Linked DNA regions of Homo sapiens: region 2 is linked to region 1. The links come from fine-mapping of genetic effects on gene expression. A gene starts in region 1. The other region holds a variant in brackets. All regions are shown on one strand. Distances are from middle to middle.

Region 1 (2,922 bases):
CCACTTTATAAGGACATAACCCCCATTCCATTTACTTCCCCCGCCCTCCTTCAACATTCCCACTTGTATTTTCCGGCTGTATTTTTAAAACATGGTAAATAACATTTGCACTCCACTTTGTAACCATAATTAAGTATGCCCTTAAACAATAAAAACCATAAACAACATTTGTATTTTACGATTATTTAAATGTTATTCACTGAACAGCCAAGCTTTGTGCTACTATGGGATTTCGTTTTCTGCGGTTCCAAGTCTTGATCCACGTCCTGCCACAGGATCACTGAAGTAGAGCCCATTTTCTTACACTCTCGCCATTAGTTCAAAAGCTTGCAGCATTTTATGTCTGGTACTTGGAGGATGATTTTCCTGTACAGTTTTGCGTTTTTTTCACCGAAAATTTCTGATTATTATTGTTTTCTCTTGTGGGATGAAATATGTACCTTCTATATCACAGCCTTAATACCTTCAGCTTCTTATTCATTGAAATCTTGCTTACAATCCAGTCCGAGGATTCCCGGTTTACTGATTTTCTTTTTCCTGCAAATTTTAGCCTTCTGTTTTGTTTTGAAATAATGCATCCTCTGCGCTTTGTCACATTCTGAAATTCGTCAGGTGTTTTAGGATGCACACTTTCTTAGATGTTTTCGAGGGTCTTAACTGCAGTTCTGTTTCCGGAACAGCGTATTCTCTTTCTAGGGATTGTAGGCTCCCGGCCGCCCCCTGAGGAGCTCCGCTAGCAGCTAAGAGGGCAGCCACGAAGAGCGCCTGAGCACTCTCGCGAGACTGTGGGGCTCGCCATTGGCTGCTCCGCCGCGCCGCAACGGACCCTGGGAGTCGGCCATCATGCTGGCCCCGGAGGCCGTTAGCTTAGTCATGGCTCTAAATATGTACCTGCAATCGGATGTTGAGGATCACCGAGCCCGCGACGTAGAAGTACGGGAAGTTCATGCGCAGCTGCCAGGCCAGCTCGAAGAAGGCGAGCAGGGTGCGGGAGAGCCCCTTGCAGAAGACGCCGTACGAGGTGGGTGTCGCGGCGGGGCTTGAGGCCCTGACGGCCAAGGAGGACGGAGCCGCCGCGGGGGCCATGAGCCAGGTGTCGCCGCCCGCCCAGCGTCTGTAGCGAGGGTTGCCGCAGGGCCCGCGGACCTCCTAGCGACGGCTGGGACCGGCAGGACGGTAAGCAAAGCGGCTCCCGGGCTCACACCCAAGCTTGCCGCTGCCGCCGCTCGGTGCAGTGCGGCGCGTAGCCCCGGGCGCCGCTGGCGCTCCGCCCCTTCCTGTCTGCTTCTCACTGTGGCATTTACCATTTAGAGCTCAACTGATGGTAGGTGGCTCTGGAATAGGATGTGTTATATAGCATGTACGAACATCCATGCAGATAGTTCCACTTTAAAATGAAAAAATCTAAGCGAGATGTAACTTGCCGTAGGGCACAAAATTTGTAAGGGCCAAAGCTAGATTAAAACTTTAGTTTGTCTGCTGTGTTATGTGGGATGTTAGGAATCTTACCCTTTTGATTTCATAATATTAATATTAGGGCAAGATGATTCCTACGCCAATAAAAGCACAAGGTCTCTGTATTCATAATATACCATAGACATAAAAAGGATCACAATCTTAGTCTTTGGATTTTTCTATTTATTAGGAATATTTAAATTGCAAGTGACAGGAATGATAAACATTCAAGCAAAAAACTAGTGGACACACACGCGTATATACATAAGGACATACATACAAAATTATATTCCCAGCCATGTAAACCCTTAAAAAGTTCAGATTAGCTGTGGAAGCTTCAGCCATTTCTGCATGGAGATGCATCTGTGAAACCTGTGGCTAGGCTCCAAGAGCTGGAATACTACTCTGTACTTCCAAACTCTTTTTTTGTTGTTGTTTTTGAGACGGGAGTCTCGCTCTGTCGCCCAGGCTGGAGTGCAGTGGCGCGATCTCGGCTCACTGCAAGCTCCGCCTCCCGGGTTCACGCCATTCTCCTGCCTCAGCCTCCTGAGTAGCTGGGACTACAGGCGCCCGCCACCATGCCCGGCTAATTTTTTGTATTTTTTGGTAGAGATGGGGTTTCACCGTGTTAGCCAGGATGGTCTCGATCTCCTGACCTCGTGATCTGCCCGCCTCAGCCTCCCAAAGTGCTGGGATTACAGGCGTGAGCCACAGCGCCCGGCCTGTACTTCCAAACTCTTAATACCATTAGAGTAACAGCACAGTGAATCTCTAATAGCCACAATACTTTTGTTATTTAAATGGTGCACATTTCATTACCTTCACTTATCTCCCATTTTAACTAGAAAGCACTGTATTTTTTAATCGCACACACCGTCTTCATTCATGGATTATTCAAATGTGTGATTTCTGATCATGACCTTAAGGTTACAGTCTTGTTCTGAAAAGCATTGTTGAGATACCACACATCGCACCGTGCACTGCATGTCTAGCAGCTATTCAGAGCACAAGTACGGTACCCTAGAGTACCTCTGTTTCTATATAGTCTACTGATTATATGACTGGTAGAAATAACGTGCCACTGATAAATTTGTAAAAATTAATTTTGTGTTCCCAGCTAGTATTCTTTTGCTACTTTGCTGCTCCAGTACCACTCCAGCGAGGTAGCACTTAGAGGAATTACTTATGACAACTTCTAAAATACTGGTATAGAGACTGAAGAGCGATGTAAAATAAATGATCAATTCTGAGAACTGGGAGAAGATATATAGTTTCAGTTCACACATATAATTTACTCCCTTTGAAAACTGAAAGACTAATACACAGAGCCATTCAGAGTCACAGGAGTCATTACGTCCTGGATTTTTCATTTCCAAATATGTAAAGCTATGTGGACTCATTCTGTCTTCTATTCCTCTTTTGTGCCACCCTTTACGCCCTACTTGCTCCGTTTCTGGGTAACTCCAT
Region 2 (2,922 bases), 200 kb after region 1:
GAGTTTGTGGTTTGGACTCATCAAGCTGCTATGCCAAAAACAAAACAAAACAAAACAAAACAAAAAGCTAATCACATGAAATCAATTTCCTGTTTCTTCCAACTTGCAGGATAAGGCCTAGACGAAGCTTTTATTGTATTGTGTGACCCAAGTGTTGGGAAAAGTAGAAAATTGTTACCAGATGTGAAGAAACATTTAGGGGCTTGAAAAGCAGCATGGAGGTGGACCTAGGCTCTTTGCAATGTTCCACGTCTTGCCTTATTTGATGGTTACATGAGTGTTTATAATACATTGCTGTGTTTACCATTTTTATTTTGACTCATTTCTAAGTGTGCATTATAATTTTATTTGAAAATTATTTATTAGGAGAAGTGCACCATAAAAATTATTGATTACTCTGCTCATTATATACCTAGGAAAAAATTCACCATTTATATATCTTTACATACAACTCTAAGAGAGTTGAAGTGGGAACTTTATTTTAGTTACAACATGTAGAAATAAGAGAAGACGCTACCTGAAGTACCCAGATCTTTCCAAAGGTTTTTTTCTACTTTTTTTTTTTTTTTTTTTTTGAGACGGAGTCTTGCTCTGTCGCCCAGGCTGGAGTGCGGTGGCGCCATCTCCGCTCACTGCAAGCTCCGCCTCCGGGGTTCACACCATTCTCCTGCCTCAGCCTCCCAAGTAGCTGGGACTACAGGTGCCCGCCACCAGGCCTGGCTAATTTTTTGTATTTTTTGTAGAGACGGGGTTTCACCGTGTTAGCCAGGATGGTCTCGATCCCCTGATCTCTTGATCTGCCCACCTCAGCCTCCCAAAGTGCTGGGATTACAGGCGTGAGCCACCGCGCCCAGCCTCTACCTTTAATTATCTACCTTGCATGACAAAACTTTGCCATTCCTTATCTATTTTTCTTTTGGCTCCTCTATTCCTGACACAACAAGGGTGGACATATTTCCCACACGCTTGGTTTTGCAGAGTACCTATATCAGTTAGGTTTTTCTGCCAGAGAAACCTCTCCAACACTACATTACATATTGATATCTCACATGTCTTTGGATTCAGTTTTTCTAAGCTGGGTTTGCTGGATGGCTCTGGTGATATGAGATGGGCCAAGTTCTGCATCTTGGAATTAGTTAGAGTTTGGACAAAGTAGGCTGGATCAGGCA[A/G]GGACAAACTGACTCCATTATTTTCTCATTCTCCTTCTGGGAACAGAGTAGTAGCCAGGCAATGTTCTCATAATAAACAGAAAAGGAAAAGAAACTCCAATGTGGAAACCATCTCAAACCTCTGTGTGAAGTCTACCAATTTTCTGTTAATCAAAGCAAGCTATGTGAGTGTACTCAGAGTCCAGGGGCAAGGTAGTCACCCTGTGTGTGGTGGGAAAATACTGCAAGATTATATGTCAAATAATGGGATACTCAGGAATATTTACAAAAATGTTGAATATTTTAATGAAATAACAAATATTTAGACATTCAATAGACTTGAGAGTAACTTTACCAAGGGTCTAAGTATGAGAGATATGTTTAATATATTTTTATGGGCTGAAAACCCTGAGTGGGAAAATAGGACTAATTTCACCAGGATGACCTCCTGGAAATGCATTTTCCATTTTGGAAATTATTTTAAAAGTTCATTTTTTCTGGATGGGTATGTGTATGTGTGTGTGTCTGTCTATGTGTGTATGTTTTATGAGCTTGTTAACACTAATGTCATACAAAAGTACTGGTTAGCAGGAATAAGATTTTAAGGTGTATTGGCATTCCCATGGTTCCCAAGAAAATTTTCGATGACTTTGATTAAAAAGTTTGGATTTTGTCTATTTAAATCTAGCATAAAAATTGGTCATGGTGATGATCCTAGTTATAACTAATCTCCCTTTAAGATTTAGGCATTTACTGTGTGAAATATGTGGCACATTTTCCATAACAAACAGCTAAAGTTACTGAACACAAATTATGGAAAGGTGAAATGAGGAAAACATTGCAAAACACTGAAAGAGAATATGTCTTTATTTGCATGCTGGCAAATGAAAATTCCGGTTTCACTTCTACTTCAGTATCTAACAAGTCTCTAACAAGAACAGACATTGAATGAATGAATTAAGTTGAGCTGTTTGAAAATTAGAATGTTTTCCATAAATACATTATTGAACTATCAATTAGCATAAACTGCTACTTTCTTGTTTGACACTGGTCACAGTATTTGAAAGTAAAAAGAATGTTACTGCACATTCAGAAATCAGGTCCACATAAAATTTAAGGTCAGGATATTAAAGGATCACAGCCAGTGCTGTTAGGCCTTCATTTATTCTATCTTTTTGTCTGTTCAGACATGATAACTTTTCTACCCATCATTTTTTCCATTCTAGTAGTGGTTACATTTGTTCTTGGGAATTTTGCTAATGGCTTCATAGTGTTGGTAAATTCCATTGAGTGGGTCAAGAGACAAAAGATCTCCTTTGCTGACCAAATTCTCACTGCTCTGGCAGTCTCCAGAGTTGGTTTGCTCTGGGTAATATTATTACATTGGTATGCAACTGTTTTGAATCCAGGTTCATATAGTTTAGGAGTAAGAATTACTACTATTAATGCCTGGGCTGTAACCAACCATTTCAGCATCTGGGTTGCTACTAGCCTCAGCATATTTTATTTCCTCAAGATTGCCAATTTCTCCAACTTTATTTTTCTTCACTTAAAAAGGAGAATTAAGAGTGTCATTCCAGTGATACTATTGGGGTCTTTGTTATTTTTGGTTTGTCATCTTGTTGTGGTAAACATGGATGAGAGTATGTGGACAAAAGAATATGAAGGAAACGTGAGTTGGGAGATCAAATTGAGTGATCCGACGCACCTTTCAGATATGACTGTAACCACGCTTGCAAACTTAATACCCTTTACTCTGTCCCTGTTATCTTTT

Alleles and levels. Positions count from the first base shown, and alleles are read on the strand shown. Sizes are in standard deviations (SD) of each study's normalised expression.
With allele G in place of A in region 2, the expression in subcutaneous fat of the gene that starts at base 1,249 in region 1 is lower (moderate effect, 0.62 SD a copy in TwinsUK).

What was found. PIP is the estimated chance that this variant, and not a neighbour inherited with it, causes the effect.
Region 2: its variant is fine-mapped to the expression of SMIM10L1 in subcutaneous fat (TwinsUK, PIP 0.93).

What each region holds. Positions count from the first base shown.
Region 1 is chr12:11,169,521-11,172,442 of GRCh38, reverse strand. It overlaps SMIM10L1 (small integral membrane protein 10 like 1), which reads right to left and starts at 1,249. Exons shown (of 1, transcript NM_001271592.2): 1 at 1-1,249. The coding sequence starts at 1,086. The coding sequence ends at 880. It overlaps PRH1-TAS2R14 (PRH1-TAS2R14 readthrough), which reads left to right and starts at 832. Exons shown (of 5, transcript NM_001316893.2): 1 at 832-1,021. It overlaps PRH1-PRR4 (PRH1-PRR4 readthrough), which reads left to right and starts at 818. Exons shown (of 10, transcript NR_037918.2): 1 at 818-1,021. It also overlaps a transcript of PRH1 not described here.
Region 2 is chr12:10,964,768-10,967,689 of GRCh38, reverse strand. All of the region lies in intron 4 of PRH1-TAS2R14 (PRH1-TAS2R14 readthrough), which reads left to right. The region is part of intron 4 of PRH1-PRR4 (PRH1-PRR4 readthrough); the gene reads left to right. It also overlaps a transcript of PRH1 not described here and the pseudogene TAS2R15P. Among named protein-coding and RNA genes, the nearest start is that of TAS2R50, 21 kb to the left of the region's middle. The variant A/G (reference allele first, on the strand shown) is at 1,170.